Homo sapiens: one gene and its partner. The protein of the gene in region 1 interacts with the protein of each later gene in a pairwise test. Each region holds a gene or a part of one and is shown in the gene's direction. Other genes may lie near its edges.

The links. Proteins that work in one complex are often made in the same cells at the same time.
Region 2: the proteins of ORMDL3 (region 1) and C10orf67 interact in binary tests that used the Homo sapiens proteins (3 or more experiments, as listed by UniProt).

The regions. Positions count from the first base shown.
Region 1 is NC_000017.11:39,920,523-39,924,615, reverse strand, and holds the end of ORMDL3 (ORM1-like protein 3), read left to right. Parts: intron 1-390; 5' UTR 391-412; coding exon 413-586; intron 587-1,352; coding exon 1,353-1,504; intron 1,505-1,930; coding exon 1,931-2,066; 3' UTR 2,067-3,573; downstream 3,574-4,093. UniProt on the Homo sapiens protein: Plays an essential role in the homeostatic regulation of sphingolipid de novo biosynthesis by modulating the activity of the serine palmitoyltransferase (SPT) in response to ceramide levels.
Region 2 is NC_000010.11:23,341,767-23,349,439, reverse strand, and holds the start of C10orf67 (uncharacterized protein C10orf67, mitochondrial), read left to right. Parts: upstream 1-4,642; 5' UTR 4,643-4,662; coding exon of another isoform or gene 4,663-4,665; coding exon 4,666-4,871; exon of another isoform or gene 4,872-5,016; intron 5,017-5,349; exon of another isoform or gene 5,350-5,361; coding exon of another isoform or gene 5,362-5,534; intron 5,535-7,673.

The DNA.
Region 1 (4,093 bases):
GGTTGTGCTGAGTGAGAATTCTCTCCCTGGGGCTTTGTCGGCAGAGGGTCCTCATGGGAGTGCCATAGGGGGTGAGGCTGGGGGATGGGCCTTGACTTCTCTGCCCTGGGGCTGCGTGCCTCTTGATGACCTGTCCTCCGATGCCCTGCCAGGGCCCTGTCCCAATGGGATGATGCATGGGGCAGCCTGTTGTTTATCCCAGCCCAGCAGCAGGAAATGAGTAGAGCTAAGTCCACATGGACTTTCTCCACTTTCCATGCTTCAGAATCAAAAGAGTGGAACTGCCTGGAGTTCTCAGGGAAACAAGGGCCTGCCTCCCAGCGGGATCCGAGGGTGAGAGGGGGCAGGGAAAGCAGTGTGACCTGTCTGACCTGTGCTGCTTGTTTGCAGAACAGCAGAGAGGGGCAGCAGGATGAATGTGGGCACAGCGCACAGCGAGGTGAACCCCAACACGCGGGTGATGAACAGCCGTGGCATCTGGCTCTCCTACGTGCTGGCCATCGGTCTCCTCCACATCGTGCTGCTGAGCATCCCGTTTGTGAGTGTCCCTGTCGTCTGGACCCTCACCAACCTCATTCACAACATGGTGAGAGCCTGTCTGCTGCCTGCCCCTGCCCCTGCCCCTGCCCTGTGGGCTGCCCTTTGGCAGGGCTGAGGGATAGGAGGAGCCTGTCGGGCCTGGCCCAGGTGTCAGGGTGATGTACTGACGACATCTGCCTCCAGAGCCCAGGCCTAGCCCTTACCTCTCTGCCTTGCTCCCCCTTCTGGGTTCCTGCCCTGTGTACCATGACAGGAATCAAATCTGCAGATTTTTCCACATCTCTAGGGTGGGGTGGCTGTTGGCCTGGAAGATGTGCTCCTGAGAGCTGAACAAAGGGCTCCAGAGAGTTCCCAGGACCCGAGAGTCCTGGTGCCTAGGCTGATACAGAAATGCCCCTTTCTCAAGTTAGCTTCTCGAACCGTCTTCCACTTTTGCCCTTCTCTGCTCCCTCACCACTTGCTACCTTGCACTCTTTGTCGGGTAAGCAGGGCTTAGTCCCATCGCTTGCCTCCTCCCAACAGGCACAGGGGGCTATGAGTGGCCTGGAGGGGGGCAGCATCTCGGTGCCTATCTTGTGGCCAACTTCCACCGTGCATTCTCATGCCAGGCCTAGCCCGTCCCCCAGGGAGTCCCCTTGTTCTTCTCCTGCCATACTCCCAGCTGCTCCATCCTGACCTCCAGCCCATATCCCCCTGCCCAGCAGAGGGAGGCTCCAGATCACTGGGAGTTACTTGTGTCTGTGACTGGGTGGAGGAGCTGGGCAGGGGGGCCTTTCCCTTTTGTATCCTCTAACAAAGACTTCTTCCTCCAGGGCATGTATATCTTCCTGCACACGGTGAAGGGGACACCCTTTGAGACCCCGGACCAGGGCAAGGCGAGGCTGCTAACCCACTGGGAGCAGATGGATTATGGGGTCCAGTTCACGGCCTCTCGGAAGTTCTTGACCATCACACCCATCGTGCTGTGAGTGCCTGGGCTACAGGAAGACACCAGCAGGCAGGGCAAGGCCTGGAGGACCCCAGGGCCCAGCCATGCTTATTAACCCTGCCGTGGCTCCTGGTGTAGGGATGAACAGAGGAAGTTGGAATATTCCTGGGTCTTACACTGGACTCAGGCTTTGGGCCTCCCTGGCCCCATCTTTCCTCCATTGGAGCTTCCTTCCTGCTAGTGAGATAGGCCTACAGGCTTGGGGTGAAGCTGGGAGGTGGGGGCGGTACTGGGCCAGGAGGGGCCCCTTTAGCCTGAGAGCTCTTGCTTCTTACGCTGGTCTGGGAACCTCTTCTGTAACTCCTTAGCTGTTGGGATTCTGCCTTTCCCCTCCCAGGAAGTGAGGGAGGAAGGGGTCCTCCCAACAGTCTTTTATATCTCTCCCCACCCTTCCCCTCCCAGGTACTTCCTCACCAGCTTCTACACTAAGTACGACCAGATCCATTTTGTGCTCAACACCGTGTCCCTGATGAGCGTGCTTATCCCCAAGCTGCCCCAGCTCCACGGAGTCCGGATTTTTGGAATCAATAAGTACTGAGAGTGCAGCCCCTTCCCCTGCCCAGGGTGGCAGGGGAGGGGTAGGGTAAAAGGCATGTGCTGCAACACTGAAGACAGAAAGAAGAAGCCTCTGGACACTGCCAGAGATGGGGGTTGAGCCTCTGGCCTAATTTCCCCCCTCGCTTCCCCCAGTAGCCAACTTGGAGTAGCTTGTAGTGGGGTTGGGGTAGGCCCCCTGGGCTCTGACCTTTTCTGAATTTTTTGATCTTTTCCTTTTGCTTTTTGAATAGAGACTCCATGGAGTTGGTCATGGAATGGGCTGGGCTCCTGGGCTGAACATGGACCACGCAGTTGCGACAGGAGGCCAGGGGAAAAACCCCTGCTCACTTGTTTGCCCTCAGGCAGCCAAAGCACTTTAACCCCTGCATAGGGAGCAGAGGGCGGTACGGCTTCTGGATTGTTTCACTGTGATTCCTAGGTTTTTTCGATGCCACGCAGTGTGTGCTTTTGTGTATGGAAGCAAGTGTGGGATGGGTCTTTGCCTTTCTGGGTAGGGAGCTGTCTAATCCAAGTCCCAGGCTTTTGGCAGCTTCTCTGCAACCCACCGTGGGTCCTGGTTGGGAGTGGGGAGGGTCAGGTTGGGGAAAGATGGGGTAGAGTGTAGATGGCTTGGTTCCAGAGGTGAGGGGGCCAGGGCTGCTGCCATCCTGGCCTGGTGGAGGTTGGGGAGCTGTAGGAGAGCTAGTGAGTCGAGACTTAGAAGAATGGGGCCACATAGCAGCAGAGGACTGGTGTAAGGGAGGGAGGGGTAGGGACAGAAGCTAGACCCAATCTCCTTTGGGATGTGGGCAGGGAGGGAAGCAGGCTTGGAGGGTTAATTTACCCACAGAATGTGATAGTAATAGGGGAGGGAGGCTGCTGTGGGTTTAACTCCTGGGTTGGCTGTTGGGTAGACAGGTGGGGAAAAGGCCCGTGAGTCATTGTAAGCACAGGTCCAACTTGGCCCTGACTCCTGCGGGGGTATGGGGAAGCTGTGACAGAAACGATGGGTGCTGTGGTCCTCTGCAGGCCCTCACCCCTTAACTTCCTCATACAGACTGGCACTGGGCAGGGCCTCTCATGTGGCAGCCACATGTGGCGTTGTGAGGCCACCCCATGTGGGGTCTGTGGTGAGAGTCCTGTAGGATCCCTGCTCAAGCAGCACAGAGGAAGGGGCAAGACGTGGCCTGTAGGCACTGTCTCAGCCTGCAGAGAAGAAAGTGAGGCCGGGAGCCTGAGCCTGGGCTGGAGCCTTCTCCCCTCCCCAGTTGGACTAGGGGCAGTGTTAATTTTGAAAAGGTGTGGGTCCCTGTGTCCTCTTCCAGGGGTCCAAGGGAACGGGAGAGGTCACTGGGCCTGTTTTCTCCCTCCTGACCCTGCATCTCCCACCCCGTGTATCATAGGGAACTTTCACCTTAAAATCTTTCTAAGCAAAGTGTGAATAGGATTTTTACTCCCTTTGTACAGTATTCTGAGAAACGCAAATAAAAGGGCAACATGTTTCTGTTTCCCTGTGTCTGGCCTTCGCTTCCTGGAAGGCTGAGGGGAGGGGGCAGGGGTGTGGGCAGCGGCTCCCGCTGAGGTGCTGGTGGGGCATCAGTGCAGCTCTGACGGTGGCAGGAGGGGCGCTGGGACTGCTGGGCTTTCTGCTGGCTTCAGCAGGGAAATCCCCCAAGGGGGCTGTGAGGGAACTGGCGGCGGCAGCGGTAGTCAGAGAGCAAAATTCTCTGTGCTTTTGCCTGGCTGTTCTCCGACAGGTCTTGCGCCTTGGCCCCAGAGGCTGGGGTGACCTGTGCCATGGCCAAGGAGGGGGACACTCCAGCAATGGTTTACACGTGGAGCCAGGGTCCCAAGTGGTGCTCAGTCCTTCCCAGTGAATCCCCAGCCCTTCTCCAGTTTCTCACTTCTCTCCCCAAGGCCTTTCCCCAGTCACCTCTCCCTTGGGAGCGCTGCGTTTCCTTCTGGCCTTTCAGTGGAGGGGACTTTTCATACTTCCTCCTCCCACCATAAGCCTGAGTGGCAGGGGAA
Region 2 (7,673 bases), on another chromosome or scaffold:
TTTGAAGCTGCAGGATGATAAAGGGCGCTTAATATCGCAGATGCAGAAGTGTTAATAAGAGAGCCATGCTGACTGCCTGGTAAAGTGTGACTTGGTGGTACCTTGTGGGGATGCCTTGACTCTGAGTCTAGTCCTCATGTAGACAGCTCTAAACACTGTATTTTATCAGTTTATTCAGGTGAGACTACAGGGGAACATTCACACTAGCCAAAATCACATTTGCTGTCTAGATCAAGACTTTCTTGGCATCTATGTACCCAAGAACATGAATTAGTTATTTGCATGTTGCCCTGTGACACTAGAAAAAGAACAGAGAGAACCAGATGGTCCTACGGGCACTTTATCCAAGTTATTGTGGAAAAACCTCACGAATGTCCTGCTTCTCAAGAGAGTAGATCCTTCTAGGGTCTGATTAAATGGGGCCCCAGGAAGGATCTCTGCCTGATAAATTCTTATTAACTACCTTATTCACTGATTCTAAGATATACAGTTTTTCACTTTTTTTTGACGGGGGAGGGGGGGTTGCCTACAGAGTCTCTGTCGCCCAGGCTGGAGTGCAGTGGTGCAATCTCAGCTCACTGCAACCTCTGCCTCCCAGGTTCAAGTGATTCTCCTGCTTCAGCATCCCAAGTAGCTGGGATAACAGGTGCATGCCACCACACCTGGATAATTTTTGTATTTTTAGTAGAGATGGGGTTTTGCTATGTTGGCCAGGCTGGTCTCAAACTCCTGGCCTCAGGTAATCTGCCCACCTGGGCCTCCCAAAGTGCTGGGATTACAGTGTGAGCCACTGTGCCTGGACAGTTTTTCACATTTCTAACATAAAATTTTGGTGTATCATTTTGGTATATCCTTGAAATTGTAGTGTATCATATAGCCCATGGTGTGTCAAGGTATAATCATAGTTGGCAAGTGTTTTTTTCTAAGTGGCACAGAAAATAAAGACACATCCTAAAGGATGCAATCTTAGACGGCATGAAATATGGTGACTGCCCTTGTATTACTCTCCAGACTTTGACTTGTCCTGAACCGCCTCACCCTAAATTCCAATATGTGGGTGACAGTTTTCCTAGGTTATGTTCTAGGCACTAGGATCCACTCTGGTCATTTGAACAGACTGGAGATCGCCCAAACTTCCCTCAGCAGTAAGTTTACAAATTCTCTCTCAGGTGGGCTCACTTCTGCAGACAGCTAAGCCCTACCATTTATTTATGTATTTATTTATTTATTTGAGATGGACTCTTGCTCTGTCATCTAGGCTACAATATGATGGCACGAACACAGCTCACTCTATCCTTGACTTCCCAAGCTCACGTGATCCCCCTGCTGCACCCTCTTGGGTAGCTGGGACTCTGGGTTCTTGGCTAATTTGAAAAAAAAATTTTTTTTTTTTTTTTGGCAGAGATGGGGTCTCCCTATGTTGCCCAGTCTAGTCTTGAACTCCTGAGCTCAAGCAATCCTCACCTTGGCTTCCCAAAGTGCTGGGATTACAGGCCCAACCCACCCCTGCCATTTTCTTCACGTTCACTACTATTTCTTTCTCTCTTTTTAATTTTTTGTAGAGACAGAGTCTCAATGTTGCCCAAGCTGGCCTCTAGCTTCTGGGCTCCGCCCACCTTGGCCTTCCAAAGTGCTGGGATTACAGGCGTGAGCCACACGCGGGCCTGCTCTCTTTTAAACAGTGATGATCTAAACTTAGCTCCAAATAGAGGAAATCCTTTACTCCAGTGCTCAAGGACATTTGGCGGCAAGGATCCAAATTCCACATCCACAGTTGCGCCTGCCCCAAACCCCCTACTGGGCTTGTCATCTTGGTTTTCAGCTTTAGTCGGCTGACAAATGCTTATTGATAGACTTTCACAGAGTGGATATGCTGTCTCACAGCAGCAAAATTTAAGACATTAAAATGATCTAGTCTCAGGAGTTTTGCCATAAAGGATTTAGTAGCATTATATTGCCCTGGCTAAGAGCCTTACTATGTCCTTCCAAAGACTTTATTTAAGAACTTTGGTTGTGGATGAAGCATGACATAAAACAAGTTTACATAACAGAGCCTCCACCACATAATCATATATTATAGCTGGTGATAAAAGAAAAATAAGCACTTCGCATGTGATGACGCTCTAGAAAGAATTTAAATTACAAACCTAAACTGAAACCTCTTGGCTCTTATTAGACTATAGAACTGATACTACCCAACTGGAATACATAAATTACTATGTTTAGAGTCAGCACTTGACTCTTAATCAAATTCTCATGCTAGTTAATCTGAGATGTTATCACTTTTAATAACTGGTAGGCGATATTTTTATATAAATACATATTCTATTTATACCTGTGGTATGTCAGAGAAGCACTTCAAATTTTAAAATTGTGCCTGAAGTCCTATTAACTGAACAAGTAAAAACAATGTTAACTTATGAAATGTTCAATTTTTTAAAATTGAAATCTTTATTTATTTATTTATTTTGAGACAGGGTCTCACTCTGTCGCCCAGGCTGGAGTGCAGTGGTGCAGTCTCGGCTCACTGCAACCTCTGCCTCCCGGGATCAGGTGATTCTCATGCCTCAGTCTCCCAAGTAGCTGGGATTACAGGCGTGCATTACCATGCACAGGTAATTTTTGTATTTTTAGTAGAGACAGGGTTTCACCATGTTAGCCAGGCTGGTCTTAAACTTCTGACCTCAAGTGATCTGCCTGCCTCCGCCTCCCAAAGTGTTGGGATTACAGGCATGAGCCACCGAATCCAGCCAAAACACTGACATCTTTAAACAATGTTTTCCCTAGTAGTGGTTTAGGAAGAAGGAATAGAGTCCTTCAAAGGCCTAGTTGGTATTTCTCTTGCAGTTGCCTCATGCATGTGCTGCGTGTTTTTCTGCTTTATAGATTACCCCAACTTTGAGAAACATTCATTATCCAGTTTTTACTTGTGAGAAAATAGAGGCTCTGAAATGTTAACTTACTTGCCCAAAATTCTAAATCGAGTAAGTTTCAAAGCCTGTATATATTTAATATTTACTGCAGAGTTCATGAGCTTTCCACTAAAGCCATCAATGAATTTAGCATGTGATAAAAGAGGCCTGGATTTAATATGACAAATGTTTTGACCACATCAACGCCAGTTACTACAGGTGAGAATCTGATCTGAAATAAACAATTTTATAAGCCGGAACACCTGTGAGATAAAATACAGGTAACTGACAAGAAGAGAAGTATTATGTAGTTAACGGTTTCAAAAACAATCATCATCATAGCGTGGTCTCTTAGACACTGAAATCTGAAACTCCTTGATATGCTATAGCAAGGTTTCAAACAAAGATGTTCTGTTCAATGCATGTTTTTGTGGGATGGCGTAACTATGCAGACTATATCAGTCAACAAATGCTGTACAGAGCTGACCAATGACTCATGAAATCTTCTGTGCGATCTCTCTCCTCAGTTTCAAACGATTCATTTATAATTGCACTAGGAAAATAGCCAACAGCTTGTCACATTCTTTACACTGTCTTGGCCCAGCTCTAAACAGATAGGTTTTGAAATTTTAACTTAAAATTTTAATCTTTATTTTAAAACATGTATATACATTGTGGTAAAATATCACTTAGGAAAAAGAAAAGTTATTGTAGATATATAAATTTCTTTCTTTTAAAATACCTTTTGATTATATAATAAAAATTCCCCAAATAAAGTCTGAAGTTAGAGTTTGTAATTAAAAACCTCCAAAGAGTAAAAGTAACTCTTTTTCTCTTCTCTCTTCATCTCCCCCCCAAAAAATAAGCCTTCACAGAAGATGATTTTGGCATTGGTTATGATGTTTTATTGGCATTTGGGGCTTTTAATCTTTGTCTTTAAACATAATAGTAGTGATAATGCTACAGTGCTTTTCTTTTCCTGTTTTGAGCTTCTAAATCCAGCTAAGTTATTTTCACTTACTGTTACAAGACAGAGAAGAGGCCGGGCTCTGTGGCTCACGCCTGTTATCTAGCACTTTGGGAGGCCGAGGGGGGCAGATTGCCTGAGCTCAGGAGTTAGACTAGCCTGCACAACGCGGTGAAACCCCGTCTCTACTAAAAATACAAAAAATTAGCCTGGCTTGGTGCTGTGTGCCTGTAGTCCCAGCTGCTCGGGAGGCTGAAGCAGGAGAATTGCTTGAACCCGGGAGGCGGAGGTTGCAGTGAGCCCAGATCGCGCCACTGCACCCCAGCCTGGGCGACAGAGCGAGACTCCGGCTCCAAAAAATAATAATAATAATAATAAGAGAGAGGAGAAAAAACTTATTTTTCTGTAGATAATATATTGAAATGCAGATGTAGTATAGACAGTTCTAAACCAGACAATGACATTTTAAAAATAAATTTAGCCAGTCGTTTACAGAAAAACAATGACATACTGATATTAGAATAGGTGTCTCCTATTAGTTGACAATGAGTGATACATAATTTAAAACTAAGGATGACAACAGTTTCACTATTAACTCTTATTATTGTAGAAACCTGGTAAAATTGAATTCCACACTAGATGGTATAGTTTAAGACTTAACGCCTCACATTCTGACCTCATTAAATAGAAATCTGTTTAATCTCTGCAAGGAAATATTTTGTCCAGGAACGCCTACGTTTGTGGCAGGTGGAGACAGCTTATTAGGCAGCCTGCTCTCCTCTTATGATGGCCTTGGTCCGGGATCGCAGGGCTCATTATGTCATGAGCATAGTTATTAGATGGGTTCACTGCTTTTCCTCCTCCTTGAGGGGGACCTTTGGCACACGCTGGGAGGCCATGAAAGCCAAGGCCACCGAGCTGCGGGTCTGCTGCGCGCGTAGGAAGCGAGAAGCTCGGGAATTCAAGCCCCCGCAAATGCGCGGGTCCACGAGGTAGGCTGAGCTCCGCGCCTGGGTAGAGGAGGAAGCGAGCAGGGTCCAGGGGCACGGCGGGAGGCTGAAGGGTTATTTACGGGGGTGCAGCTTTCCTCTGGGGTATCGCAGCAGCCTCCAGGCTGTGGGAGTCTTGTGGGGAAGCCTTGAGGCAGGCGGGACAGTGAAAGCGCAGCGGGGTGGCTTGGGAGCCCGCCCCGCCTCCTCCTCCCCCTCTCCACTCCCCTCCTCCCGCGCGTGCTCCCTCCCCATCCTCCTTTCCATCTCTTCCCCCTTCCCCCACTCCTTCCCCCTCTTCCTTCCCTCCACACCTCCTCTACTTCCTTTCCCTCTCCCCTTCCCCCCCATCCCCAACCTTCTCCCTATCCCCCTCCTCCCCATCTCCTTCCCCCTTCCCCTCCCCACCCCGTTCCCCACCCCCCTCCACTCGCGGCCCTCCCCGGCCCCCGCCCACGGATTCCCGCGCTTCGCCGGTTACCTGGGAGTCGCCATGGCAACGGACGCCGGGTTCCCGACTCCGACTCAGGAGAGCGAGCGGCTCCGCGGGAGGCGCACGTCCGGGGCTGCAATGGCGAACTGGGGCGACTCGCCTGAGACAGAGGAGGGCCGGAAGATCATGGAGGGCCTCGAGGCCTCTATTGAACAATTCCAGTTCAACCCCAGGTGACCAGCGGGAGAGGCAGTCCCCGCCGGCCCGCCCCGGAGCCCTCGCGCCCCGGCCCTCGCTCAACGCCTTTCCAGGCCCCTTGCTCCAGCCGCTGGGCTTCAGTTTTTTGTTTGTTTTTCGAGGGGATCACTGTCCGAAAAGAGCTGCAGTTTTCACTTCTTCAAGTGTATAGCTGGACACTAAGAGCACGGACTCTGGAGCCAGACTGCCCGGATTCCAGAATCTTGGCGACCCTCTCACAGGGGCCGTGAGTTAGGCGACTGACTGCTCTGTGCCTCAGTTTTCTCAGCGGGAAATAATCGTTCATGAATGATGAAGAGTAGTGCCTGCTTCATAGATCATAGTGAATATTAAATGAGCTAATCTAGGACACAGTACCCGTCTTAGTCCCCTCGGGCTGCTGTAACAAAACAACATAGGCTGGGTGGCTTATAAGCAACAGGAATTTGTTTCTCCCAGTTCTGGAGGCTGGGAAGCCCACTGGCAGATTCCAGGTCTGATGAGGGTCCCTTCTGCACAGACAGTACCTCCTGGCTGTGTCTCCACATGGTGCAACGGGCAAGGGAGTTTTCCCCCACGTCCCCCACACCCGCTCCCACCCTGCTTTTAGAAGGGCACTAATCCCATTTATAGGGCTCCACTTTCATGACCTAGTCACCTCCAAAGTCCACACCTGCTAATATCGTCATCTTGGGGGTTAGGATTTCAACATGAATTTTCAGGAGACACACTCAGACCATAGCAGAATCATAGAAGTGTTTGCCGATGTCATTATTTGCTATTCCTTGATCCTTGTTTAAAACCCGTCCCTTTCATAATCCTTTGCCCCCTGTGTTCTAGCTTTGTTGTTTATTTGGATAATGTAGAGCTGATGTTTCTGGGAAAATGCAAATTTCTTTCTAAAAACCTTTTCAAATCAGTAGGTAGCCAGAATTAGCTTAGCTGCTATGGGAGAACTTACCGTTGTATAAGGCAGGGGCCTCATGGTGCCAGGTGGGCTGGCTTAGGGGCAAGCCCCTCACACAGACACAGCTCCAGGGTGAGAAGAAGGGACCACAGGTGTCCTAGCCCAGCAGTGGGACTGACCCAGTGAGGCAATGCTCCTGGGCTGGGCTTCCCCAGCTTCACTGTATTCAATGGGTACGTTTGTTAAAATGGGTCAGGGTGCACGGGACCTGGTCTAGTGGTGGTTGTGAATAGCATTTATTAGAGGCAGCACGTGATAAACACCAGAGGCACACAGCGTCTACCCTGTTCTAGTGTTTGCTGATAGGAATGGTGTCCTGCCCTGGACTCCTTGGCATTCCATGGTGGGGTAGCTCCCAAAAAAAAATGCACTTGCCAGGCTCAAGAGCAGACCGATGGTGCCGGGTGCTCTTTGGCTGAACAAAAGAACCACTGATGCCCATATTCCTTCCTCTTCACCCAAAGTACTAGGGCGACTGAGCTGGTGCCTGGGTGTGAATGAGAGAGGCTCAGGTGCTGAACGTGGTCCACAAAGCAGACGAAAGCCCGGCCTTTGTGGAGTTTGCATCCTAGTCAGGAATTGATGATGAACTAGATAAACAAGTAAACTATGTAATAAGTTAGATAGTGGTTAGTGATAAGGAAGAAACCGAACATGGGGAGGGAGAAGAGGAAAGTGAGTAAGTGTGTGAGAGTGTGTGTGTGTGTGTGTGTGTGGCAAGTGGGGAGGGAGCTGTGATTTAATTTTTGTTTTGTTTTGTTTTGTTTTTTAGAGTCAGGGTCTCACTCTGTCACCCAGGCTGGAGTGTAGTGGCACAATCATGGCTCAGTGCAGCCTTGAACTCCTGGAGTCAAGCGATCCCTCCACCTCAGCCTCCTGAGTAGCTGAGACGACAAGCACACCCCAGCCTGCCTGGCTAATTTATTTTTAATACAGGGTCTTGCTGTGTTGCCCAGGCTGGTCTCAAACTCCTGGGCTCAAGCAGTCCTCCAGCCTCGGCCTCCCAAAGTACTGGGATTACAGGCATGAGCCACCATACCCGGCCTGGACTGCAGATTTTAGAAATGGTGATCAGGGAAGGCTTCACTGAGAAAATGACACTGGGGTGAAGACTTGCAGGCTTGAGGGGGGAGCCCTAAGGATCTATCAGGCTAGCAAGTGTTCCAGG